4 linked regions of the Homo sapiens genome follow. The protein of the gene in region 3 interacts with the protein of the main gene of each other region in a biochemical or structural test. Each region holds a gene or a part of one and is shown on either strand. Other genes may lie near its edges.

Region 1 (7,026 bases), on a different chromosome or scaffold from region 3:
GGTTAGTTTTGCTCTGGCTCATTTTGGCAAAAACAATAAAGCCTGTTTCCTAGGGGTCAAACATTGTTTTCTTGTTTGCTACTAGGATCGTATCATATACTCGAGACTTACCGCATATTACAGTGGATCGATTAGTGTCAAAGGCTTTAAACATGTGGGGCAAAGAGATCCCCCTGCATTTCAGGAAAGTTGTATGGGGAACTGCTGACATCATGATTGGCTTTGCGCGAGGAGGTAAGAAAGATTCCTGTAGGCTAATCCTGTGTCCTGTTTTGTTTGTTCATGGTTTATATCAGTGCTCTTTTCTTATGAAGATTAAAATCCTTTAATGAGATATGATTGGTAGATAGATAGTTAATAGATAGATTTAGCAATATTATTATAATTTTTATAATCTGGTAATATAGAGCCACTTTTTATAGCAGCAGTTGGCAAACTATGATGCATGAGCCAAATCCAGCCCACCTTCTGTTTTTGTAAATAAAGTTTTACTGGAACACAGTCAGGCTCCTTCATTTCCCTATTACCTATGACTGTTTGGGCTCAGGCTGCAACTGTGACAGAGATCACAAAGCTTAAACACTTGTTATCTGACCCTTTACAGAAAAAGTTTGCCAACCCCTGTTTTGTAACGTGAATTATTATTTATATATACAGTCATGCACTGCTTAACAATGGGAATACACTCTGAGAATGAGAACTTTGGCAATCTTGTCACTGTGCTAACATCATAGAATACACTTACACAAACCCAGGTGATACAGCCCACTATCCACCTAGGCTACATAGTATAGCCTATTGCTCCTAGGCTGTAAATCTATACAGCATGTTACTATACTGAATACGGTAGGCAACTGTAACACAGTGGCAAGTATTTGTGTGTCTAAACGTATTTAAACATTGAAAAGGTAATGTATTGAGCTATGACATTATCACAACTACTATATCACTAGGCTATAGGAATTTTTCAGCTCCATTATAATCTTATAGGACCATTGTATATGTGATCTGTTTACTGAAAGATCATTATGTAGCACATGACTATATGTTTACAATATATCTACCTAACATCGATATTAAATCAACAGAAAGAGTCGCAGCTTCCAAAGGCCTCAAGAGTCCCCTGAGAAGTGGTATATGACCTGTTGCTAATGCCTTTCATGTGGCAAGGAAGTAGGAAATGGAAACTTTCATATTAAAGAACTTAAAAATATATAACACAGCAGGGTGTGGTGGCTCACGCCTGTAATCCCAGCACTTCGGGAGGCCAAGGCAGGTGGATCATCTGCGGTCAGGAGTTCAAGACCAGCCTGGCCAATAGGGTGAAACCCCATCTCTACTAAAACAAAAATTAGCTGAGCATGGTGACGCATGCCTGTAATTCCAGCTGCTTGGGAGGCTGAAGCATGAGAATCGCTTGAACCTGGGAGGCAGAGGTTGCAATGAGCCAAGGTCACACCACTGTATTCCAGCCTGGGCAACAGAGCAAGACTATGTCTCAAAAGAAAAAAAAAAAATATATATATATATATTTTTTTTTTTTACGTGGGTTTTTCTATATGTAAAACCCATTTTTTTAGTATATGTGTTATATATGTGTGTGTGTGTATATATGTATATATAAAACCCATATACATAAATTGTTCTTAATTGCTAGTGTTTCATGGTGCAAATTTAGAGAAAAATGTTGCCCATTTCAGTCTGTTCTATGTGGAATGGTCCGGCTACTGTAGCTGAAATTTGAACTTCAACCCACAATATTGACAACACCGAAGAAAATGTTATGGGAAAGCACTAATCATGGCACTACAAGTTTTTTAAGAGCTAGATAAACTGGACTGGCCTCATATCACCTCGAAGATAACCAGCTCTGCATCACACATTAAAGGACTATAAAAAGCCATTTTAAGAGATCTTGAGCATGGCTCTCTAAGAGACTATTTACTATGCCCACGAAGAATAAGCTAGGTTTTTAAGAAAAAAAAAAAAAAAAACCTATGAAATGGTGCACAAATTACTTGCCAAATGTGGTATTCATATTCATTCTCCCTCCCACCACCCTTTGGCCGAGCAAAGTGGTCAAATTTAACAAAAGCTTAAATGCAACCTTAAGTTAGATATAACTGCATTTTAAGTCCTGTATCCAGTAAGCTTTCAATATATGGTGATTATCAGTGATGAGCAATGGTTCTGTGAAAGGAAAAGTGTCTGGGCCAAGAAAGCACCCAAACTACCCTGTGAGTGCAACCGACAGCACATAACAATGTCAGCTACTTGCACTGGGCTGCCTTTTTTTTTTTTTTAATTTATTTTTTGAGATGGAGTTTCACTGTTGTCACCCAGGCTGGAGTGCAGTGGCGCGATCTCAGCTCACTGCAACTTCCGCCTCCTGAGTTCAAGCAATTCTCCAGCCTCAGCCTCCCAAGTAGCTGGGATTACTACTTGGTGGCATGTGCCACCATGTCCAAATTTTTGTATTTTTAGTAGAGACGGGGTTTCACCATGTTAGCCAGACAGGTCTCAAACTCCTGACCTCAGGTGATCCGCCCACCTCGGCCTCGCAAAGTGAGCCACCATGCCTGGCCTGGACTGGGCTGCTTTTTCTAGCCTCAATAATCGTATAAACTGAAAAATAAAATGACTGGAGAAAAAAAAAATCAGTCACTAAGAACAATCACTCCATTTTCTTTCAGCTCATGGGGACTCCTACCCATTTGATGGGCCAGGAAACACGCTGGCTCATGCCTTTGCGCCTGGGACAGGTCTCGGAGGAGATGCTCACTTCGATGAGGATGAACGCTGGACGGATGGTAGCAGTCTAGGTATAGCATCTCATGTCTCTTCTACTCCACATCCGTTTTAAAATCCTGGACTTACACTAAGTTAAATAATTATATTAATTTATAATAAGTATTGAGCCCTTGCTAAGTGCCAAACACTGTACTATATGCCTGAAATGCATTATTTCATGTAATATACTCATAATGCTACACACAGAAGATGGACACTCAGGCTATGGAGTCAAGCACCACTGATCCAATTTGCTGTACGTCTACCAATTACTCTGTGTCATTGGGCAAGTTATTGAATTTCTCTGAGCCTCAGTTTCCTCCTCTGTGGAATGGAAATATAAATAGTTCCCACATCAAGGAGTCTTTAAATTAAATGAGATAATGCTTATACAGTGCTTGGAATGTATTAATAATTAATTAAATTATAGCTCTTTCTTCATATTTCCAAAAAATACATGCCCCAAATGGAAAAGAAAGAGAAGTAGAAACTATGATATTTGAGAAGTATATGCAATTCTGGAATTATTCACTATTTTCCAGAAAGAACCAACTCCATGATTTAGTATATCATATTTATCATTTTACATAGTAGGATATTATAGGCACATGAGAGAACTAATGGAGAAGAGCTCTGGCATAAATAATCCCAATTAGAGACAATTTTTTTAAGGCTACCAACTGGCCCTAAAAGGGAAATTTGTACTTGTGTTTGGCAAAAGGAATTCACCATAGCTTGCTGTCTTGCTGTGAAAATCTATGTTAAATTGTGATGCTGCCTCCCATTTGCATCTGGCATATTCTTTTCATTCTTCTTTCTTCCCACTTAAGGTAGGTTAAAGGCAGCTTCCTTCAATTCAATGCAACGCCACCAGAGCTCAGGCCACTCCTCAAACGCACGGGCTCACACCTTCCACATACTTGCAAAGCCTTTCAATGAGTATGAGGGAGAACAAAGGATATATGTAATACAAGTTAATGAATCAAAATCAAAAACAAAGCCCAGCATTGCCTAGAGACCCTGCCTTTCAATCTTCGCTTTCTCAAAGCCACCATTCTCTCTTCTGATATCCAAAGTCACTAACATTTATTGAATGGCCGTGACTTCCCAAATATTGAGAAACTCTAGCTATCATGACAAATCTAGAGGGCAGAAATTACTGTCTCTGTTTAACAGATGAGAAACTGAGACTCAGCAACATCAATTAATCTGTCCAGAGTTGTCCAGCTAGTAAGTAGTGGAGCTACATTTCAAACCTAGGTCTTAGTGCTTTTAAAACCTTTGCTTTCCACTGCAGAGTATTGCTGCCTGAATGAAAGAAGCAAATAAAAAAAATTACACATTTTTAATAAGCAGAAGTAGTGATGAGATTAAAGCACTCCTATTCTGATTAACCTTCTAACCCCTCTCCACTTTTGAAAGCCTAGAAACAAATAAGTAAGCTACCGTGGGCTAAAACTTGGGTATTTTTCTTTAGTTTTTTTAAATTATGATATCATATATATAATATTACATAATGTATGTAGCTATTTTTATCATTACTGTTTGTCACTTCTTCGGTTGTAGGGATTAACTTCCTGTATGCTGCAACTCATGAACTTGGCCATTCTTTGGGTATGGGACATTCCTCTGATCCTAATGCAGTGATGTATCCAACCTATGGAAATGGAGATCCCCAAAATTTTAAACTTTCCCAGGATGATATTAAAGGCATTCAGAAACTATATGGTAATATTTATTATTTCAAATAAGAGGATTTCCCATTTTCTTTTTAGAGTGGGGTAGGAAAAGAAAGGCTGGGAAATGGGTATTTACCTGGAAAACCACACTGGAACTCATATCAAAAAGCCTATTGAGGGGAGGAATTGGGGACCTTAGATACTTAAAATATAACTAGGCTGTAATATACTATGAAGATGTTGATTGTGAGTTTCAGTAACATAGTATCATGTGGTAAAATTATGCAAATGATATTGTCCAGATTTTCTTCAAGCTGCCACCCACTGCTCTTCCTCTCTCAGTTTAAATAGTTTAGGAGAGTGTCCCCTGTAGGGGTGGACTGAAGGGACAAAACACCTTTCTTCATAGCTGCCCACTCCTAAGGATTCAATCCTAGATAATTATAAGTGACCCTGCTCTTCCTGTTTGCACGTACATGTAGAGAAAGCGGTTAACCACGGACAGAAACTGCTTATCATTCCTGGTCTTGATACTTATGTATATCCCTTGCCCCAGTCTATGCTTTTTTGGTTTAATCAAGTTCCAAATTCAGTTTTTTTAAGTGCACTGATTTGGATTTACTGTATTGAGTCAGCCAAAAGTAGTATTTGAGAAAGAAATCAAAGGACAAGAATAAAAAGCTCTGTCTCTGGATAAAGATAAGGAAAGTAAGATTCAAAGAGGCTAAGTGGACTGTCCAAGGTCATGTGACTGTCGAGTGCTTGAGCCATGATTCCAAGTGAGGGCTATGTGACTTCATACTTTTTCTACGACATATTCCTGCCTATCACTACCCAGTAAGCTTTTTATCCTAGTAAGAATAAAAGAATACAGAATGACATCTTTAAATCAGCAGATATAACTAAACCTAGCCAGTAAAAATATCAGGATGAAGAGAATACACTGCAAAAAGATCACTTAAGATTCTTCAAATGATCACGTGAGCAATGAAAGTGCTTCCACATAATAGAGGACTGTCCTCAGGGGAGAAATATTCCAGTAAGACACTGGATTTAAGATATCAGTTCAACCTAGCATTTGCTATAAATCAGCATGTCCCAAACTGTATTCTCAGAACACTAGTCCTACAGGGTGATTCCCAGAAAAGGAGGCTATGGAGAAATAAGTTCAAGAAACACTACCTACTGTATTTCAGGTGTATAGACTATTAGAGAGTATGGAGTATTGAACAAATGTTTAACTCAGTGTTTCCTAAATTATAATCCTTTTTATGGGTCTCAATGAGTCCCATAAACTAGCACTTCAGAGAACACACTTTGGAAAATGCTGTGTAACTATTCCCAAAAGTTACGACGTAAAGAACCACTGCTGTCCAAAAGATTCACAAAATGCTGACTATTGTTCGTAAAGTTATCATGAACAAAACTGAAAATACTATCCTCCCCTTACATAAAACTGTGGAACTCATGGAATATTCTATAGCAGTCTATAAATATTTTAGAACCCTAAGAAAAATACAAAGAGACTAAAGAAGGTCTGAGGCATGCTGATTAAATTTAACAGGAAGAAAAGAGACTAGTGCATTAAAACCTTAAGTATTAGACAAAAGGGCATCTCTGGTCAGAGTTGGAAACAAGTAACTTCTGGACAAATGGAAATAGAATTTAATTATGTGGGCTGTATATGTAGGGAGTTAATCTAAAAAGTAATATGAGCAGAAAACATAGATTCCAAAGAAAGTGATTAAGATACAAGATTCCTAATGCTATACTCAGAATGATAAAAATAATAGCTGGCTGGGCGCGGTGGCTCACGCCTTTACCCAGCACTTCGGGAGGCCAAGGTGGTTGGGGATCGCTTGAGGCCAGGAGCTCGAGACCTGGACAACATGGTAAAACCCCATGTCTACTAAAAATACAAAAATTAGCCGGGCGTGAAGGTGCATGTCTGTAGTCCCAGCAACTCAGGAGGCTGAAGCATGAGAATTGCCGGAACCCAGGAGGCAGAGGTTGCAGTGAGTCAAGATCACACCGCTGCAATCCAGCCTGGGCAACAGAGTGAGACTCCATCTCAAAAAATAAATAAATAATAGCTAACATGCATTGAGTACTTGCAGTATCCCAAGACTTCACATGGATTAACTCATTTAATTCAAGAATTCAATGAGACATTATTATCCACATTTTACAGATTTGTAATCTGATGCTAAGAGAGGTTAAGTAGTAAACTACCTAAGGTCACACATCTAGTAAACTGGTAGAAACAAGATGCAAAGGTACCTGAGCCCTGGGCCCACACTCCAGTCAATCCTGCCTTCTTAGCCTCTGGAGGTTGTTCTTCAGAATCTTTGTCCCAGGGACAAGAAATGGTCTGAGTGAATAATAGATTATACTTTCTGTGACATTTCCTTTGCCTGTATAATCTTAGGATGGTTTTTATGCATTTTCTACATATCAGAATGTTCTTTTTTTTTCTCTCAATAGGAAAGAGAAGTAATTCAAGAAAGAAATAGAAACTTCAGGCAGAACATCCATTCATTCATTCATTGGATTGTAT
Region 2 (7,019 bases), on a different chromosome or scaffold from region 3:
GACAAAGATATTTCATAGGTGGTCTGTGTACCTCCTATTGCACCATAAAAATAAAAACATAATGTCTGGTTGTCTTACTTTTCATAAGTTAATAATTAATCAGTAGGTTCTGGTGGTAACAGCTTGACACATTCACTAAAAAGTTCCCAATTGACTTTTTGATGCACGGCTTCCCAAGTAAATTTGTATTTTGGACCAGATAATGCTTTGCTATGGGAGACTGGCCTGTACATCGTAGAATGTTTAGCAGCATCTCTGATACTCTCATCACCACTCCCACACACTGTCTTGTTGTGACAATAAAAAATGTCTCCAATTACTGCCAAATATACCCTGAGGAAAAATGGCCACAAGTTGAACACTTCTTACCTAATGGTTTTAGCAGTTGTTAAAAACCGTTGCCTAGGTCCATTATTTTATTAGGGTTTACAAGTAGTGATTTTTCTAATTCCATCATTCCTGCATTTACAACTGTGGTTTTTTTTTTTTTTCAAAAGAAATACTTTCTCTGGGTCTTTCTAGCAAAGGAAGAATAACTGGTTAATAATTTTATTTATCGATGCGTTTAGAATAGTGAGCTGTGCCCTAACAACCTCCAAAAGTGGCCAACTAATTTTTGTTTGGAGTATCATTCGGAAATCTTGAATACTGACACACTTCATGTATTTCAATCTTTTGCTGTCATTTCTTTTTTCTTTTTGATGCTCAAGTTTCCCCATCCTTAACCAGCAAGATCTCTTTCAACTTAGCTCAGGTTTCCTTTTGACATGACCTTAATAGTCAGATAATTTCTTGCTTTCAGGCATGACAAGACAGATAGTCCAGATTCACTTTATGCATTTCCTTTCCCAGACTTAGAATCTGCCACTCACCCAAGGAACCCTGATTCCTTTAATTTAGAAATGGTATTTAGGAACCACAATCTGGTCACAATGACCTTATGGTTTTTGGGTTGTCACTATTTCTAGGTCTTTGGAACATAGTTCCAAAGCCAGAACTATAAAACTAAGTTTATTTAGAAAGGTTTAGCTTCCACCATTGTTTCTTTCCTCATAGTCTCCCCTTTCTCTACAGATAACCATTTTTTATTAGATTTAGTTTATACTTCTTGTTTGTTGTTAAATCTATAACACACTCATACCCCTAAAAAGTAGCATACAATATTATACAGCTTTCATTTAAAAAATATTGTAAAAAATAGACATAACATAAAATTTACCATTTTAATCATTTTTAAGCGTGCAATTCAGTAGCATTAAGTACATGCACAATGTTGGACCACCGTCACCATTATCCATTTCTAACTTTTTCATCATCCTAGGCAGACCACTTTGTACTCACTAAACAATAACTCATCCTTCCCATTTTCCTGGAGCTCCTGGTAACCTTTATTCTACTTTGTCTCAATGAACTGCCTAGTCTATCTGTACCTTGCTTTTTTTTTATTTTAGTAGACTGTATATGCTAGAGATCACTCTCTAAGAGCATACAGAGTTTCTCTTCATTCATATTTGACAGCTGCATAATACTTCACTGAATAGATGAAGTCATACACAACAGTTGCTTGTTCATGGGAAGTTTGTGTTTCTAGTCTTTCACTATTATAAACAGTGCTGCAAAGAACAGTCAAATGTATGCACCATTTCATTTTTTTTTGTCTATGTATCTTTTATATAGGTTCCTAAAAGTGGAATTGCTGGATCAAAGGGTAAAGGCATAGGCAATTCTAGAGCATTTAGATTTAATGTGATGGACAGGAATGAACCATGAAGCCACGTAAGTATTAAACAACAGCAACAACAACAAAAAAAGCAGATACAGGATGTTTTAAATGGTATGACTAAAACACTGCTTTAAACCAGGAGATAGTTACATTAGTTAGCTCTTTTAGTTTAAATAATTTTATTATTTGAAGCGAAGTACGTGAAAATAACTGTATTGCTCTTTCTCTGGATTTTAACAAATCGGTGTCTCACATGAAATTATGTAACTCTTATCTTTTCTTCTGCTTTATGAGAATACTGTAACAAGGGGTACTACCTTCAGACCCTTTGACTACATGGAGAAATAAAGGAGGGAGTTGTGCCAATTACTGGAGAATTTTGGCTGTCAAATAGCACATCTGGGCAATTTGGGCCAGAAATACATATATATGATATATGATATATATATGATATATGATATATATGATATATGATATATACGATATATATGATATATGATATATATGATATATACGATATATGATATATACGATATATATGATATATATGATATATGATATATATGATATATATGATATATATGATATATATGATATATATGATATATGATATATATGATAGATCATATATGATCTATCATATATATCATATATCATATATCATATATATGATATATATGATCTATCATATATATGATATATCATATATGATCTATCATATATATGATATCATATATATGATATATGATATATATGATATATGATATATATCATATATATGTTATGTGTATATATGTATATATGTACGTGTATATATATACACACACACACACACACACACCCTCCTATACATATTCAACATTTTCCCCTTTAAACTAAGGTTTTCTAGGCTTGAATAAACCAGACACTGCTCTTTTGTACTGTTTCGCAAACTGTGCTTGGATGGTCTCTCCTTGTTTTCAGGAGTGTTTGATTTTTAAATTGTGATATTCCACTAAATGAGAAATGACCAGGACTTCACAGAGATTTCATGAAAGGAGGGCCACAAAGGAAGAACCCAGAGCAGGCCGGTGAGAGGCACTCTAAGAGGTACAGAGGGTTGCACCAATTGCTAGGATTTAATCAATCAGAAGGGGTCCAAGCCAGGAAGCAAGGGCATGCCCCGAGCCTCATTTACCCGCCTTGTCACCACCCTGCCCGCTAGTACATTTCAGAGTCTCTAACCCCTCCCTGCATGCAAGCCCAGGCAGAGTCCTGCCAGGTTTCACACCAGAGCACACCCCTGCACGGACTCCCCAGGACCGCGGCGCCGGCTGGCTGCCTCGGCCCCCCGCGGCCGCGTGAGCTCCCTCTTGGTGGTGGAGGGCGCATTTCAATCTGGAAACTCCCAGCCCCTAATTTGGTCCCGCAGACTGACGCCGCTCCCGGTGGGGCGGTGGGGGTAGGAGGGCAAAGGGGAGGTCTCCTCCTTCTTGGATTGAGGCTGCAACCAACAGCCCCGTGAGCCTCTATTCCTGGCTGACTGCGAATCCCCCCATCCCAGGTCAGGGGCCGGGACCCTACAGAAAGACCCGTTCTCATCCTCAACCTTGCGGCCTCTGTCCGGCGGGGAAGTTCAGCTGCGGGTCAGTTCAGCTGCGGGTCCGGCCAAGCCTGGCGCGCTTAGGCACCCTAGTCCCTGGTCCGCGGCCGGGCGAGGACGGAGGGGGAGGGGAAGGGGCTGCTGCCTCCTTTCCCAAATCCGGTCCCTAATCGCCCCATCCCCCGCCGTCTACTCGCTTTGTACAGGCAGTCAAAACAGAGCTAGCGGCCAATTGACGGGGACGGGAAGCAAAGCCGCCTAGCGCCTCGCCCCCTCCAGCCGGCCCCCCGGGCCCCTCCTCTCGGCGCCCGGACCTTGGCCCTCCCTCTCCTTTCCCACTTCTCTCTTTGCCCTAACTTCGCCCCCATCCCCCGCTCATTTCCTCTCGCACCCGGGCTCGCCAATCCCTCTTTCCAAGTCCCTCTTCCAGCCCGGCCTTCCTCTCGGGTTCGCCCCCCTTCTCCCCAATCTCCGTCCTCTTCCCTCCCTTCGCCCTCCCCCCCTTCCTTCCTCTTCCCCTCACCCAACCCTGGTTCCCCTCGTTCCTCAGTCCCGATCTCTCCCTTACTCTGTCCCCGCCCACTCTGCGCCGGCCTCTCAGTCCGGGTTGAGCCCCACGTGTGGACGGCCGCGCCCCCACTGACAGCCGCCGCCCGCCGGCCCGCCCCGCGCCCCGCCGGGCCTCTAAAACCCCCGCGCCGCGCCCTCCACCGCCGCATCTTCTCCAGCGCCCAGCCTCCCGCCCTCTCTCTTGCTGGCCGCACGCCCCGGCCCCGCGCACCTCCGCCCGGCTCCGCAGCCGCTACCCGCGCTTCGTTGCCCTGTGGGACTCCGAGCGAGCCCGGAGGGAACCCTCCTCTTCTTCTGGGGGCGACTTTTGTTTGCTTGCCTGTTTCTTTCTGGTGACTTTTGCAGCTTTCCAATATCCGTCTTCGGAGCGCACGGGAATCCGCCGAGCTCTGCGTGCAGGCCCTTTTTTCTTTTGAGGTTCACATTTTTTGAAATTTTACGCCAGGGCTTTTGTAATTTCCTCCCCCGCCCGCTGACGGTCCTGGAGTCGCTCGGGGCTTTAGGCCGGTTATGCAACGTGTACCGCTCGGGGCTGCCGGCTGCACCTCCGCCGCGCCTCGCCGCTCACTGCGCTAGACCCGGCGCCCCGCGTCTCGCTTCGCGGGCAGTCAGGGGGCCGGCGCTCTGTCGAGGTCTCCAGCTAGAGCAGGGAGCCCGAGCCCGAGGGAGTCCCCGGAGCCGACGAAGGGCTTATTAGACCCTGACTCTTTTCTGAGGCGCGCAGATTTTGTCTTTGATCACTCCCTCTCCGCGGGTCTACGGCCGCGCGCTTTCGGCGCCGGCGATGGGGAGAAGACGGAGGCTGTGTCTCCAGCTCTACTTCCTGTGGCTGGGCTGTGTGGTGCTCTGGGCGCAGGGCACGGCCGGCCAGCCTCAGCCTCCTCCGCCCAAGCCGCCCCGGCCCCAGCCGCCGCCGCAACAGGTTCGGTCCGCTACAGCAGGCTCTGAAGGCGGGTTTCTAGCGCCCGAGTATCGCGAGGAGGGTGCCGCAGTGGCCAGCCGCGTCCGCCGGCGAGGACAGCAGGACGTGCTCCGAGGGTAAGTGGGCAAGCGGCTCCGCACCTAGGGCTCCGGCTTGGGGGAGGGGGGAATCCTCAGTTTGGCGGCTTTCTGGCCCACTCCGTCCCAGACCCTTTAGCTGGAGCCTAGAGCTGCAGCCCCCTTTGCCAGAATATCCAAAGACCCCCAGGAGCGCGTCCCCCTTTTCCTTCCCAACCCCGCAGCTCAGCGGGCGGAAAGCCCTCTCTCCGGGGGTTGGGCGGCGGGTGGTTAGGGGGTCCAGGGGTGCCGATCGCAGAGCGTGTGCAGAGCTCGCGCTGCGGGAACAGGTTCTGAATGTCCGGCGGCAGGCGGGCCTGGGTCCGCCTGCTGCAGGGGCCAGAGAAGCCTGCTTGCTCCCCACGTCGGGGCCGCCGCTCGTGAGCCTTTTGTTTGAGGACGTGTGCAGGGTTCACAGCTCACCTTCTCATCGTCAACCCGAGCGCTCCACCTTGCGACGCGCTTTCCTTGACACGTCGGGGCCAAAGTAACAGTTGACCAAGGAGGAATGGATTTGGGAAGGAGGGCAAGGATTCTTTGGAACGGAATGGTCCCTTTGTTCTCTGCATCTGGAAGCTAGAATAGTAGCAAATTATATGTTTCCATGCCTCTTTTCGCCCTTTAAAAAGGCAGGCAAGGGACGACAGATGAAAGGCAGTGTTTAGACATTTCTGACCCTCCTGCATTCCAGCATCTAGCTCTTTTGCTTCCACGTCTGCCTCCCGATCTCCAATAATTTGAAGTGTAATTTTGATTTGTTTGTTGTCCTGAAATCTACTCGCTCGGGGCATTGCTTACGAAGACCGTTTATATGTTGCTGCATCCCTCTACCTATCTGTTACGTGACCGCGCTTGTCCATCACAGGCCCAACGTGTGCGGCTCCAGATTCCACTCCTACTGCTGCCCTGGATGGAAGACGCTCCCTGGAGGAAACCAGTGCATTGTCCGTGAGTGCTTGGCAGGGATCGCAGCTTGGGGCAGCGCACTCGGCCCTATCTCCGGCCGACCTCTTGCACTCAGCCATTTGGACGCATAGTTGCGTTTAAAATCAAGTGATCACATTGCACTGATAATCGGGACGCGGCCCCATTTGAATAGTGGGGAAGACTCAACCGGTTTGAGTCAGTTCAGACTTCACTTCTAGACTCTGTTGAAGGGCAATAATGATAAAGATTTCAAAGATAATTGAAAGTTTTATCTTTCTATGTCTATTAATACAAATTGGAAGAGGGGAGGAGTAGAGCAATTATCTAGATAACTCAAAACCACTTTTTCTGTAAAAAATCCAGATGAGACCACATGTTATTATGCAAATTATCAGGCTTTTAACTCTGCTTGAGGTTTGGGCCTTATGAAGATCAAGATTTCTTAGGCATTTATATAAAACCACTTTCTTATTTCTGGTTTTATATCAACAACCACATAACCTAGATACGAAAGGAGCATTCTCGCGGATTTAGTGTTGACCTAAGTTAACAAACTTTTAAAAGACAGAACTCTTACAAAGGGGCTTGAGTTTTTTTTTTTTTTTGCTTTTTGGAAGACGTTTAAATTTAGGGTTTCCAGACCCTGAACCTCAATAGTGTGCAGTAGATTTCCAAAGTATGAATCTTAGACCTTGAAAAATTCTGTATCTCTGACCTTAAAAGTTTTGATTATTTTATTCTGTTTCCAAAGTGTATAACCAGTTCTCCAAGTTCTAATTGGAGAGCTCATTAGTTATCAGCCTCACAGTCACGGACTCTGGGATGTCTTATTTCATATGCCTGTAAATTTGTGACTTGCAGTGTGACTGGCCTTCTCCTGTGTGTTTATGTAGCACAACCACATTTGTCTTGTTGGAAGGAGAGCCAGGTATCATAGACAGCACATTCATTTAGAGCCAGTCTTGACTTTAGATTGACCTCCATGTTCTCCAGGGAGAAAATAATTATGCAACTGTGAACAGAGAAAAAGGGCAAGGCACACTAACCAAGGGATAATAAGGATGTAGTGGCATTTCTAACTCTGTATTTATTGGTTTTGTGGTTTTGAGATAGATGCTTAATGTTATTTCTGGGCAGTTTTTAAAAAAGAGATGAAATCTCCAGTGTCATAAAGACTAA
Region 3 (7,026 bases):
AGGCATGAGCCAACGTGTCTGGCCTACAAAAATCTTACAGAGTTGATTTTATTTTTCCCATTTTACAGATGTGGAAACTGAGGTTCCCAGAGCTTAAGTAACTTGCCTACAGTTGCACAGCTAAATGGTGGCTGAGCTGAGATTTGAACCCAAAGCCTTTCTGTCTTACAAAGTCCCTTATATAATGTAAATCTGCCTCCATCAGCCTCAAATCTCCAAGGGGTCCTTGTCACTGAAAAGGTTAAGAACTCCTGGCCAAATGCAGCAGCTCACAACTATAATCCCAGAACTTTGGGAGGCCAAGTCGGGTGGATCACCCAAGGTCAGGAGTTTAAGACCAGCCTGGCCAACATGGTGAAACCCTGTCTCTACTAAAAATACAAAAAAATTAGCCGGGCATGGTGGTGCGCACCTGTAGTCCCAGCTACTCAGGAGGCTGAGGCAGGAGACTCACTTGAACTCGGGAGGTGGTGGTTGCAGTGAGTCGAGATCACGCCATTGCACTCCAGCCTGGGCGATAGAGTGAGACTCTGTCTCCAAAAAAACAAAGTTATGAACTCCTGAGCCTGCACACACTTCATATTAGGGAGGAGGAAGCTGAGGCCCAGCAAGGGAAAGTAACTGATCCAGGGTCACACAGCAAATCTATGCCAGGGCCGAGGCTCCAGCCCTCTTTCCATAAGCTTCTGTCCTCTTTGATCAGGTCTTGGTTAATGATCAGCTCTTCTCAATCTTGCAGGGTTAGTTCCTGGTGTCGGCGTGGCTCCTGGAGTTGGCGTGGCTCCTGGTGTCGGTGTGGCTCCTGGAGTTGGCTTGGCTCCTGGAGTTGGCGTGGCTCCTGGAGTTGGTGTGGCTCCTGGCGTTGGCGTGGCTCCCGGCATTGGCCCTGGTGGAGTTGCAGGTGAGTTTCATGAGTCAATGAGCCTGAGGGGCCCCCGAAGCCTCCATGGGCCCCGCCTCCATCTCTAATCCCCCTCTCTCTCCCTCCCTCAGCTGCAGCAAAATCCGCTGCCAAGGTGGCTGCCAAAGCCCAGCTCCGTGAGTGCCTCGCCCACCTTTCTCTCCTCTCCCCAACGATCTCAGAGCTGGTTAGGGGCAACAGCCAGGGAGGAGGCCGCTGCTTGGATCTGGGCCCCTTCCTCTGGGACTAGGCTCAGCTCCCTGGGCAGGACACCTCCTTAGGGGCATGCTCCCTGCCTGCTGTCGCCACCACTGCCCTCTGTCTGCAGGAGCTGCAGCTGGGCTTGGTGCTGGCATCCCTGGACTTGGAGTTGGTGTCGGCGTCCCTGGACTTGGAGTTGGTGCTGGTGTTCCTGGACTTGGAGTTGGTGCTGGTGTTCCTGGCTTCGGGGCAGGTGCAGATGAGGGAGTTAGGCGGAGCCTGTCCCCTGAGCTCAGGGAAGGAGATCCCTCCTCCTCTCAGCACCTCCCCAGCACCCCCTCATCACCCAGGGGTGCATAGTAAAATCCTTGTTAGGTTCTCCTAAGCATCTGGGGGTAACAGATAGCGGGAGGAGGGCAGACCAGGCCAAGGGACCCCAGGCTGCCCAATTGCAGAGTATCTGCCTCCTCAGTAGAGGGGTGGCAGGGCTCCAGACTGAGAAAAAGCCTGCCCTCCAACCAGGGAAGGAGCAGGTAGATCAGCCTGGCTCCCCTTCAGCAGTGCTCTGTGGCCAGGGGACCACTAGGAACTCCAGTTCTTCACCAGCTGGTGACTGAGCCCCACTCTGTGCCCAGCCTCAGGCAGTCCATGCTAGGCCTGGGGAGAGAAGGAAGGGGCAGACGGAAGGTGGAGGCACTGTTCAGCCCTAAAGCTCTGTGCCTGTACAGCTTCAGGGCTTTGAGGAAGCAATAGAGGCCAAGGAAGTCAGGGAGGGCTCTCTAGAGGAGGCGGCAGAACTCCCAGGCACAGAGCTCGGCTCCTGACCACTCCCCAACTTTTCTTTCTCCCCAGTACCTGGAGCCCTGGCTGCCGCTAAAGCAGCCAAATATGGTGAGTGCACCCCACAACCACTTGTGGCTCCCTTGCCACCACACCATCCCTGACAGCACAGGACTGGGGTGGTCACAATAGAAAAAGGCAGTTTCGGCCGGGCGTGGTGGCTCACACCTGTAATCCCAGCACTTTGGGAGGCCGAGGCAGGCAGATCACCTGAGGTCAGGAGTTCCAGACCAGCCTGAACAATATGGTTAAACCCCATCTCTACTAAAAATTCAAAAATTAGCCAGGCGTGGTGGCGGGCACCTGTAATCCCAGCACTTTGGGAGGCCGAGGTGGGCAGATCAACTGAGGTCGGGGGTTCCAGACCAGCCTGACCAATATGGTGAAACCCCATCTCTACTAAAAACACAAAAATTAGCCAGGTGTGGTGGCGGGCACCTGTAATCCCAGCTACTCGGGAGGCTGAGGCAGGAGAATCGCTTGAACCCAGGAGATGGAGGTTGCAGTGAGCCGAGATCACGCCACTGCACTCCGGCCTGGACGACAGAGCGAGACTGTATCTCAAAAAAAGAAAAGAAAAGAAAAAGAAAAAGGCAGTTTCTAGGACACGTTTATGACAGTTTAAAAACCTGGCCCCTGCCCACTAAATGCTTATGGTGCCTTCAACCCCTGTGACCACCAAAAACACCCTTGAAATCCCAGTTGCCCCCCAGGAGGCAATTCCACCATCCCTAAGCTTGCCCTGACCCTGACAGTTACATGGTCCCTGTGTCCAGGAAGGGACTGGGCCTGCTGTGGGTATGAGGAGTCTGGGCAGTCTCTGCCTCCACCCCAGCTCTCTGGCCCGAGCAAAGGAGCTGGTATTCCTCATCTGGGCACCCCGGGCCCCCGCCCGCCTTCCTGTCCTGCCAGCAGGACCGCTCCCACCACGAGCCAGCCCAGAGGACGTGGCAGTCCCACAGCCTCTGCACTTGGCGCTCTGGCAGCCCTGCCTGGCCAGACCCACGCTGTCTGTAGCCCCTGAATTCCTGGCCTCCTGTGAGCAGCGTTGGTGGGAGGTGGAAGACTCCCCCAGGGATCCACCAACCAGCCGGGCAGGTCCACTTGGGGCCAGTTTCTACCTCGGAAAATCCTGGCTTCCTCAGCGCCGACCCCCAGCAGCCCTGGCCTCCTCCCCTGCTCACTGCTGACTGCTTGGCAGGCCTGAGTCAACAGACATTGCCAGGGAAACAGAGTGACGTCATGTGGTGGAGCCGCGAAGGGCGCAGGCTCCCCAGCCACTTCCCGTCCCTGAAGCCCTGAGCACACTGCTTAACCTCTGCTCTGCCTCAGCGTTCTCATCTGCAAAATGGGAATGACAATAGTGCCTACCTTTCCTGCTGCAATGCATAAAAAATGGGCTGCTAAGTGTGAAGCACTCAAAATGTTAAGTGCCTGCTGTAGATACTATTACCGTTGTTTGTTTGTTTGTTTGTTTGTTTTGACAGAGTCTTGCTCTGTCGCCCAGGCTGGAATGCAGTGGTACGATCTTGGCTCCCTGCAGCCTCCATCTCCCGGGTTCAAGTGATTCTCCTGCCTCAGCCTTCCAAGTAGCTGGGATTACAGGCGCCCGCCACCACGCCTGGCTAATTTTTGTATTTTTCGTAGAAACAGGGTTTCACCGTGTTGGCCAGGCTGGTCTCAAACTCCTGACCTCAGGTGATCCACTAGCCTCAGCCTCCCAAAGTGCTGGGATTACAGGTGTGAGCCACCGCACCCGGCTTACAAAAGAACTTTTAAGGCCAGGCACAGTGGTTCACACCTTCGGGAGGCTAAGGCAGGAGGATCGCATGAGCCCAGGAGTTGGAGGCTGCAGTGAACTATGATTGTACCACTGCACTCCAGCCGGGGTGACAGAGCAAAACCCCATCTCAAAATGAAACAAAATATGGACTGGACTTCCTGTCCACTGCTCCTCCACAGTGTCACATGGCCCCTGCCACCTGTCTGCTTGCCTTGTGTCCCTGGGGCAGGGAGACCCATCGTTCAGAAATGGAACACTCATTTTCCCTCCTCTCCCCGCAGGAGCAGCAGTGCCTGGGGTCCTTGGAGGGCTCGGGGCTCTCGGTGGAGTAGGCATCCCAGGCGGTGTGGTGGGTGAGTTGAAACCCCAGGAGGGGCAGGGTGGGGAGGGAATCTAACCAGTACAGAGTGCCTCCCTGAACTCGGTCTGTGTTCCCAGGAGCCGGACCCGCCGCCGCCGCTGCCGCAGCCAAAGCTGCTGCCAAAGCCGCCCAGTTTGGTGAGCACTGGGTGGAGGTGGGAGCTGCCGCCAGGCCCCCAGGCCCCCAGGGTGTGGGAGGAGCTTCTGACCAGGCACTGTAGACTCAGAGTCCCTGCCCCAGACACCTCCTGGCTCCACTGTGCCATCGAAGGCCAGGGGAGACCTCAGGCTCCACCTGTGTCCCCAGAGGACACCTCCGCCCTCCACAGGCCGAGGCTTCAGTCCCACCTTTCTGACCAGCGGAGTCTAATGCTCAGCTGTCTCCACAGGCCTAGTGGGAGCCGCTGGGCTCGGAGGACTCGGAGTCGGAGGGCTTGGAGTTCCAGGTGTTGGGGGCCTTGGAGGTGAGAGTTGTTCTGAAATCAGTGAGTGTGTGTGGTGTGTGTATGCGAGACAGAGATGGAGACAGAGACAGAGACAGAGACTTTCGTTCCCACCCCTGGCACGTCTTTGCTCAAGATGTCCTCTTGGCCAGGTGCGGTGGCTCACGCCTGCAATCCCAGCACTCTAGTAGGCCAAGGTGGGCGGATCACTAGAGGTGAGGAGTTTGAGACCAGCCTGGGTGACATGGCGAAACCTCATCTCTACCAAAAATACAAAAATAAGCCGGGCGTGGTGGTGGGCACCTGTATTTCCAGCTACTTGAGAGGCTGAGGCCAGAGGATCGCTTGAGCCCAGGAGGCAGAGGCTGCAGTGAGCTGAGATGGTACCACTGCATTCCAGCTTGGGCAGCAGAGTGAGACCCTGTCATCTAAAAAAAAAAAAGAAAGAAAGAAAAGAAAAGAGGCCAGGCATGGTGGCTCACGCCTGTGATCCCAGCACTTTGGGAGGCTGAGGTGGGCAGATCACGAGGTCAGATCAAGACCATCCTGGCTAACACAGTGAAACCCCGTCTCTACTAAAAATACAAAAAATTAGCTGGGCGTGGTGGCAGACGCCTGTAGTCCCAGCTACTCAGGAGGCTGAGGCAGAAGAATGGCGTGAACCTGGGAGGCGGAGCTTGCAGTGAGCCGAGATCGCGCCACTGCACTCCAGCCTGGGCGACAGAGCGAGACTCCGTCTCAAAAAAAAAATATATATATATATATATATATGTATGTATGTATGTATATAAATTAGCTGGGCATGGTGACACACGCCTGTAATCCCAGCTACTCGGGAGCCTGAGACAGGAGAATCACTTGAACCCAGGAGGCAGAAGTTGCAGTGAGCCAAGATCACGCCGCTGCACTCCAGCCTGAGCAACAGAGCAAGACCTCATCCCAAAACAAAATAAAAACAAGAAATGTGGCAAACGGGAGCTGGGGCTATCCCTTGCCGCCAGGGTCCCAGTCCTCCCCCTCTCCTCTCTCTTTCAACCCACCTGACCACTGCGGTGGGAGTAAATTAGGAGAATGATGGTTATGCCAGTTCTCCAAGAAAGAAATCAAAGCTTGGAGAGAAATTGCTTTCCCTAAGTCTCCACCATGGTGGCCGACCTTGTGTGGCCATTTCCCCCTTTCTTGGGCTGTCATTGTGTCTCCCCCTGTAAACTAGCCTGCACAGCTCTTCCTGTGAGTGCCACAAGACCAGACACACAGTAGGAGCTTAACAATTAAGACTTTTGGGGCCGGGCATGGTGGCTCATGCCTGTAATCCCAACACTTTGGGAGGCTTAGGTAGGTGGATTGCTTGAGGCCAGGAGTTCAAGACCAGCCTGGACAATGTAGCAAGACCCCCCCCCACCACCACCTCTACGAAATATTTAAAAATTAGCTGGGCGTGGTGTGTGCCTGTAGTTTCAGCTACTTGGGAGGCTGAGGCAGGAAGATCACTTGAACCCGGGAGTTCAGGGCTGCAGTGAGCTGTGATCAAGCCACTGCATTCCAGCCTGGGCAACAGAGCAAGAAGCTGGATAGATGAAGGAGAGATGGGGGGATAGACTGGGAGGATGAGTCCATGGGCAGACGGTAAAGGGTGAGTAGGTCAGAAGACAGGGCCTAGCCAGGTGCAGTGGCTCACACCTGTAATGTCAGCACTTTGGGAGGCCGAGGCAGGTGGATCACCTGAGGTCAGGAGTTCGCGACCAGCCTGGCCAACATGGTGAAACCTGTCTCTACTAAAAATACAAAAATTAGCCAGGCGTGGTGGTGGGTGCCTGTAATCCCAGCTGCTCAGGAGGCTGAGGCAGGAGAACCGCTTGAACCCAGGAGATGGAGGTTGCAGTGAGCCGGGATCGCGCCACTGCACTCCAGCCCAGGCGAAGGAGTGAGACTCTGCCTCAAGAAAAAAAAAAAAAAAAAAGACAGGGCCTGACAGGTGGCATTGGCATTCCTGAGCCGTCATGTGCCTCATCTCCCCAGGTATACCTCCAGCTGCAGCCGCTAAAGCAGCTAAATACGGTGAGTTCCCCTCTGATGCCTTCCTGCCAGTGGCCTGCACCCCCTGCCATGCCCATCGCCACCCTCCCCCAGCCCAGCTCAGGCCTCCCTCTGGCTCCCCCTACCCCTGAAGATCTTGTCTGGGACATTCCTTAACCCAGAACCCAGCAGGGATATCAGGGCCTCTTCCCGATGGGGGTGTCTTATCCTGACCCCACCTGCCTCTTCTCAGGTGCTGCTGGCCTTGGAGGTGTCCTAGGGGGTGCCGGGCAGTTCCCACTTGGAGGTAGGGGTGGCCAGCTCTGCTACGTAGTCCTCAGCTCTGTCCCGATCTAGAGGGGGCCTGTCCATCTAGCAGTGGGGACTCCCAGAGCCCATGTCCACACAAGGACAGGAGACTGGGGCTGGTGAGGGCACTTTAGGATTGCAGATGTACTGGGCAAACGGGCAAGCTATAAGGT
Region 4 (7,026 bases), on a different chromosome or scaffold from region 3:
CCCTCTCTGTGTTCCTTGAGACACATTTGGCTGAAGAAGTCAGAGTCTTACCTTCTCCACGGGGTCTTAAAAAGAGCTTTGTCTCCCATGGGTCATGAGCTACAGTGACAACTTAACGGCATTCGCTTCCCCCAATTCTGGTGAGTCGTGCAGTTGAGCTAGAGCTAGTTGGGTTTGAGCTCTGACAACTTCATTCGCAGTCTTTTGTGTTCCAAGAGGAATTGTAGGTGCTGGAACCTGATCATAATGCTCCCAGCTTTGTTCTTTAGAGTCACTGGAGGGTTTTGAACGGAGTGACATGAAATGCCTTTATGTTTAAAATGGGCCATTCTGGCTGCTGCTAATTGAATTTACACTGGTTTTGGAGAGAGTGAGGGCATAGAAGGGTGGAAGCAGGAAAACCAGTGGGAAGGCTGTTGCAGAAATTGCAGGGAGAGGATGAGGCTTTTTGACCAGGGTGAGGGGGTGCAGTAGTGAGAAGTAAAGATATTCTAAGTGGATTCTGAAGTTACCCCTAAAAAGAGTTTTTGACATATCAAATGTGGATGGTGAGAGAAAGGAGGGTCAAGGATAATTAGGTCTGAGCAGTGGAAAAATGGAGGTGCCATTTACTCATATGGGAAAGACCAGGGGAGCAGCTGGTTTGATGGTGAAGGCAGGGGCTCAGTTTCTATTAGTTTCTGATTTCTATTATACATCTAAATGGTGGTAGCAAGTAGGGTTATTGGCTATGTGATTCTGCAGACCATGTGCTTTAAGTTGCAGGAATTAAAAAGGAAGGAGAAGCACCTCCTCTTGTTTAAGTTCCTTTGGGTAGTCCTAACATAAATGAACAAGTTATCTCAATAACCTTCTGCAGCAGAGTCTTCTCAGAACAACCTGTATTTTGGACAAAGCCTCAATGGCACTGTGGAAGCAGCCTGGGAGGAAACTGCTTTGCAACCAAAGCCAGCAGGACTTCAACCATGGAGTGAGCTGTGAGGGAGGGGACAAGAGGAGAGGATGCTGGAGAAAGGGGGGGAAAGGGCAACACGGCAGGAAGCTAGAGCCTGCAGGAAAAGATTCAGCTTTGAGATAATCCCAGGCGCAGGGTGGCTAAAGCAATTCTGGAAACTGGGCTGTGGAAGAACCATTTTTAAGCTGTTTGCCACCACCTCTGCTATGCTTTACTACTAATTCCACTCAGTTTTACCTTTACTCCATGTAGTTTTCCAGTGGGTAGACAGAGGGCACCGTGGCGCTGGGCTTTCAGTAATACTTTCTAAGACACACACTGGCCAGTCGCAAGATGGCCCTCTCCTCAGCAGCTTCGAGCTTGAAGCTTGAAGCAAGTGGGGAATGAATACAAATTGGCTTTAAGCATCACCTCGGCTACTGAGTCCCCAAGGATCACCTGCACAAGTGCTCTGTCAGCAGAGGCGCCCGAGGTACAGGCAGGATGGGCCTTGTGGGCCTCTCCTGGCCAGAAGGAGATCATGCCCCTTCCCAGGCTGAGTGAGCTGCACTGCTGATCTTACCTCCTCTTGTTCTTTCTTGATGTGGCTGGGCCTTGATGACAGACCCTCCTGGCAAGAAAGAAGCATCACATGATCTATTTCTGATTCCCATGGTGGAGAAGTACTTAGAACACATTTGCTTCCCAAGTTTGGTGTCCACGGGCTTGGCTGAGACCTGGACAGTAGGAGAAGGAAGGCCAGGAGGCCAGGCATGGGGTCTTGAGCTACATTTTGCATTCTGTCCTTGACTCACAATCAAAGGTTTTTCTTCTTCCCTCTTCCCCATCTGCTCAGAGCCCACCCAGAGGCCCCCGACCATCTGTGAGCGCTGGAGGGAAAACCTGCTGGAGCACTACGGTGGCACCCCCCGGGATGACCAGTACGTGCCCCAGTGCGATGACCTGGGCCACTTCATCCCCCTGCAGTGCCACGGAAAGAGCGACTTCTGCTGGTGTGTGGACAAAGATGGCAGAGAGGTGCAGGGCACCCGCTCCCAGCCAGGCACCACCCCTGCGTGTAAGCACCTGGCCGCCCCCGCTCCCCTCAGCTGTATCTAAGGCCTTTGCTAGGGATGGTGCCTGCTGTGGTGAAGTGGGGGGACATGTGGGGTCACCAGGTCTAATGAAAGAAGTCACTATGTGCTATGTTGATTTATAATCTGGTCCACACAAGATCCCAATTTGCGTTTGGTGTCTGGTTTTTGTCATTAGCAGCTTCCATAATTGGAACATCTGCAACTCGGTTCAGCAGGCAGTTACTCCCCCTCCCCAGCCCAGGGTGACAGGGGACACGTGTCACTCTGGAGTCCTAAAAGGAAGCTGACACAATGCTGGCTCTGTTTTTTTTTTCTCTTGAAAAAAAAATCTGTTCTGCTTTGTTCTGAGGGAAGTGTTTTGCTGTCTTCTTCCCTAGTAAATGGCAGATTTACATAATTGATCCTTAAAAAAACCCTAGAAATTAGAATTTCTTTTGAAGAACATCTGGAGCACATCTGCGTAGGGCGAAGAACTTTTGATATTTTTGGAGGCTCTGGTATGTGGTAAAGTAACTTTTCTTCCCATCTCCCTGCCTGCCCTTGTTCCCCTTCCTGCTCTCCCACCCTCTCTCCCACAGGTATACCCACCGTCGCTCCACCCATGGTCCGGCCCACGCCCCGGCCAGATGTGACCCCTCCATCTGTGGGCACCTTCCTGCTCTATACTCAGGGCCAGCAGATTGGCTACTTACCCCTCAATGGCACCAGGCTTCAGAAGGATGCAGCTAAGACCCTGCTGTCTCTGCATGTAAAGTGGATTTCTCCTGTAGGGGGCAGGGCTGCGTGGCTTTCCCAGTGGGAGCCACCTCACAGGCCCTGTTGCAGTGAGGTGGACTGGTGCAGGGAAGTCCTGGAGGGTTTCTGAGCTGCAGCCCATCGGCATGGGCCCGATGCCACCACCATAGGACCAGGGCTCTCTCTTGCTGGGAGTCACCTGTCACTGACCAAGGCTGTGCTCTCTGGTTCGTTCATGGAGTTTCAGATAATATGGAAAGGGAACTTTAGAGTTGTCAGCACATGGAGGCTGTATGGTGATCCAAGGGAAAATGGACCGACTCTTACCCTAAGTCCCCAGGGTTGTATGTCATAACATCTCCATGGAAATCCTGGAAATCAAAGTGACAGGACAACTAGTCACAAGGTGTGATCTCTGCGGTTTGTTGGGGACTCCAAGTGGAAGTCAGTTAATGACTGTCTCACCGTTGCAGCCCTTCCCTTTCACTTTGGTTCTGTCCCTTTGACCCACTTCTTTCCTAACCTTCCCTGACTCCATAGATGAAAACTTGAGGAGTGTGTGATGCTGGGAGAGGAGTGGATGGAGCCTTCCCCAGGGGATGTTTGATGCTTCCTGAGCCAGCAGCCTCCCTAATGCAAGGCACCCCATTTTGGGGAGCGGGTTTTCTCAAAAATGGAGGAAAAAAAAGGGTGGCTGTCTCGAATGGCATCGACACAGTGGAAAATCATCTGATTCCATTGTTGAACTTCACACTCCAGGCACTTGCTCATCCCTGAGAAAGAATAGTACGGCATTCAAGTTTACATTTACTTCTGTTAATGAACGACACTTATTTGGTTCCAGAAAAGCTTAGAGGCAGCCAGTGTTTAGGAAGAGATGTGTTCTTTTTAAGATTCGAGTTTGTTGGGTCCTGTCCCCTCCCCCAAGAAAACTCTCACATTGTTTTGTAAAACTTTCTCTGGAAGAGGTAGAGACTAAGAAGTTGACATCACTTTAAGCTAACCCTCTTTTATTCAAGTCATAGAGCTTGATTGCCTTTCTGAACATGCCCCTGACCAGGACAGGGTGGTGATGGTAGTGGTAGTGGAACTGAAAGAAATGGGACGTGGGTTATTTGCACATTTTAAGGAAATTTACTTAAACTGGGACTTTTTCTCTAACCTGAGGTTATGACATGGGTTTATGAATCCCATGATTCCCGGGTTAATGGAAGCTCATTTGAATGTGTACTCTTGCCTGGGACAAACGACTTTTCAATTTTCAAATAAAAGTGTAGTTGACCTTAGGCCCGCCCCCCATATAAGCTGCCTGTTTTTCCACTGAAGCCAAATCCCGTTTTGTACAATCTTTCTTGGCTGACTACGCTCCCAGGGGGCGTAAGTGAAGCCAAGCCCCAGGAGGCTGTTAGGCAAGGCAGGAACTTGTATGACCTCAGGGACAGCCAGCTAACCCCTGAATGTTGGCTTTGCACATCTGCTGGGCTTCTCAGAGCAGGAGCCTGGATTGGAAACTGAATGAAGCAAGTTCTGCATGGAGTTGAGGAAAAATATCAGACTCAGCATTTTTTTTATTTTTATTATTTTTTTAAAAGACTTGTCATTTATTTAGCAATGAGGAGGAGAGACCTCACTAGCCAGAGGTTGGATAACCACTACTCCCTAGTTCCTTAACCCAATAAATTAGATTTTTTCCTTCTTTTGAGACAGGGTGTAGCTCTGTGTTGCCCAGGCTGCAGTGCAGTGGCACCATCTCGGCTTGGTGCAGCCTTGACTTCCTGGGCTCAAGCGATCCTCCCAACTCGGTCTCCTGAGTAGCTGGGACTACAGGTGCGTGCCACCATGCCCAGTTCATTTATTTTTTGTTTTTTAGACGGGGTCTCACTATGTTGCTCAGTCTCGAACTCCTGGGCTCAAGCAATCCTCCTGCTTTGGCCTCCCAACGGACAGGGATTACAGGCGTGAGTCACTGTGCCTGACTACACTTTCTTTAGTACAGGATATAACCAACATCTTGCCTCCTAAGAGTCAGGGGCAGGAGTATAGGTGATTGTACTTCAGGTAGAGGAAAGATCTCATTCACAGAGGAGGGGAGAGTAGATTTTGTTGGCATATAGTGGCAAATTTTATTAAGGCTCTGGGAAAAGTGCTGATGACATTGGGAAAAGATTCAGTTTTTACCCAGTAAAATATTAAAAACTTATTTTGCTTAAGGCCATGTCCTCTAATTACTGAAGGGGCTGATTTTTTTTTTTTTTTAAATCATCAGTCATAATAGCACCTATTGAAGGGCTTACTGTATGCCAATTACTGATTAGGACACTTTACAAGCACTTATAGTATTAATTTTTATAGCAACCATATGAGGCAGGTACACTATTGGCCTCATTTTGCAAATGAGACAAACGCATAGAGGTTAAATGCCCAAAGCCACATGGCTACTAAGTGGCTGAGCCTAGATTTCACCCGAGTGCCCACATGTCCAGCTACTCTGCTCTGTTGCCTGCAGGATCACAGTGCAGTGTTGCTCACTGCAGCTGTGCATGAGCAAGGCAGCTGAGTGTGAACAAAGGGGAAATGTAACCTAATTCTTCTAATTCTATGATTTGATGCACAAAGGGCTCCATAATCGTGGGAATTGATTACGACTGCCGGGAGAGGATGGTGTACTGGACAGATGTTGCTGGACGGACAATCAGCCGTGCTGGTCTGGAACTGGGAGCAGAGCCTGAGACGATCGTGAATTCAGGTCAGCAGCTTCACTCAGCAGTCTGCATTTCATTTGATTCTACAAAGTCACTTGTCTACTTTACGCCGAAGTCTCCCCTCGATTTTTCTCCATTAGGGGAGGTTAAGTTCTAGGCAAGTCATTTTATTGAGCTGTATAAGACTAGCCCCCTCTGTAAGCAAACACCTTCATACATACGGAATGAAATAGGTGATTCCTACTGTGCGCACTTCTTAAAAGAATTCATGGTAAGAATTCAGGGTGACGCCTTCGTTTATTCAGCCTGGCTCTGGCACTGTGGATGCCGGTTGTCATCAAACTGGTAGGTCTGCTGGTCTAGAAGCTAGAGGTAGTGGAATATGTAACAAAAGTACTTGTTTCTCTATTAACCTGGTTCTTGGGGACTTGGAGACACTTGGGCTTTGCTTTCCCCTGCTGACCCCCCTGCCCACCCGACCGTTGGAGGGCTTCAGGTTTGCCCTCCATATCCTGCAAACACTCCAGTCCTGACTTTGCTTTATTTCCAGGTCTGATAAGCCCTGAAGGACTTGCCATAGACCACATCCGCAGAACAATGTACTGGACGGACAGTGTCCTGGATAAGATAGAGAGCGCCCTGCTGGATGGCTCTGAGCGCAAGGTCCTCTTCTACACAGATCTGGTGAATCCCCGTGCCATCGCTGTGGATCCAATCCGAGGGTCAGCTGGGCTTCCCTAATTCTTCTCTTACCTGTAGATCCTGATGTGAAGCCCTTGGGTTTTAAATACAATGTGGGGAAGGTCAGAACAAGAGAGTGAAAGCTCAAATGCATTCATGTAACAAAGATTTACTGAGGATCTAAGAGGTGTCAGGACCTGTTCTAGGAAAAGACAAGGTCTGTTCTTTCATGGCACTTATATTTTATTAGGAGGAAACAAGACTGGTATAAACAATATTAGTCTGTGATGTGATATGTAGAAAATTCAGATAGTGTTGTGAGAACTAGGGCTACTCTGAATCAAATGATCAGGCGAGGCCTCAGCTGACACTTAAACTGGAAGTGAAGTGGGATTCCTCCAGCAGCACATTTAGAAACCAGGGTTGACGCTCACAGTAGGGCTGACCTACATCAAGTGACATTAGCCAAAGCTCAGACACCTCTGGCTTCAGTGTTGCTGTAGCAGAAATCAAGATAAACATTTTCCCTGTCTGTATAATTGCTAAGGTCATCAAATGTGACATACAGGATTTGTTCACTGTCTCAGTACTTGTTACAATCAGGGAGAATTTTTATATCTTGAGAAACTCTTGCCATGTTTAAGTGGAGTTTCTACGAAATGAAATTCCCAGATGCCCTTCAAATCAGTAAAGAAAACCTTCAGCTTTAATTTTCAGGTAAGTGCTTTTTGACTATGAAATACTTAGTGCAGTGCCTCAAAGGTGGTTTCAAACTTTGGGTTCTACACACAGGAAAAGTACCTGTATCCTTCTCTATTCCAGTTGACTTAACAGGAATTAATAGCCCTCTTAAAAACTCTTTGCATAGGCTTGCCTT

What was found.
Region 1: of the proteins of ELN (region 3) and MMP7, one has a biochemical effect on the other in vitro, tested with the Homo sapiens proteins (one study listed by IntAct).
Region 2: the proteins of ELN (region 3) and FBN2 form a complex in vitro, tested with the Homo sapiens proteins (one study listed by BioGRID).
Region 4: the proteins of ELN (region 3) and NID2 form a complex in vitro, tested with the Homo sapiens proteins (one study listed by BioGRID).

What each region holds. Positions count from the first base shown.
Region 1 is NC_000011.10:102,520,732-102,527,757, reverse strand, and holds part of MMP7 (matrilysin preproprotein), read left to right. Parts: coding exon 1-1; intron 2-85; coding exon 86-234; intron 235-2,693; coding exon 2,694-2,822; intron 2,823-4,356; coding exon 4,357-4,518; intron 4,519-6,953; coding exon 6,954-6,982; 3' UTR 6,983-7,026. UniProt on the Homo sapiens protein: Degrades casein, gelatins of types I, III, IV, and V, and fibronectin. Activates procollagenase.
Region 2 is NC_000005.10:128,535,244-128,542,262, reverse strand, and holds the start of FBN2 (fibrillin-2 precursor), read left to right. Parts: upstream 1-4,017; 5' UTR 4,018-4,659; coding exon 4,660-4,913; intron 4,914-5,778; coding exon 5,779-5,861; intron 5,862-7,019.
Region 3 is NC_000007.14:74,059,147-74,066,172, forward strand, and holds part of ELN (elastin isoform a precursor), read left to right. Parts: exon of another isoform or gene 1-721; coding exon of another isoform or gene 722-739; coding exon 740-901; intron 902-993; coding exon 994-1,038; intron 1,039-1,229; coding exon 1,230-1,355; coding exon of another isoform or gene 1,356-1,454; intron 1,455-1,954; coding exon 1,955-1,993; intron 1,994-3,063; exon of another isoform or gene 3,064-3,134; intron 3,135-4,006; coding exon 4,007-4,078; intron 4,079-4,163; coding exon 4,164-4,223; intron 4,224-4,474; coding exon 4,475-4,549; intron 4,550-6,547; coding exon 6,548-6,586; intron 6,587-6,797; coding exon 6,798-6,851; intron 6,852-7,026. UniProt on the Homo sapiens protein: Major structural protein of tissues such as aorta and nuchal ligament, which must expand rapidly and recover completely.
Region 4 is NC_000014.9:52,010,040-52,017,065, reverse strand, and holds part of NID2 (nidogen-2 precursor), read left to right. Parts: intron 1-1,790; coding exon 1,791-2,012; intron 2,013-2,609; coding exon 2,610-2,779; intron 2,780-5,382; coding exon 5,383-5,512; intron 5,513-6,018; coding exon 6,019-6,190; intron 6,191-6,371; exon of another isoform or gene 6,372-7,026.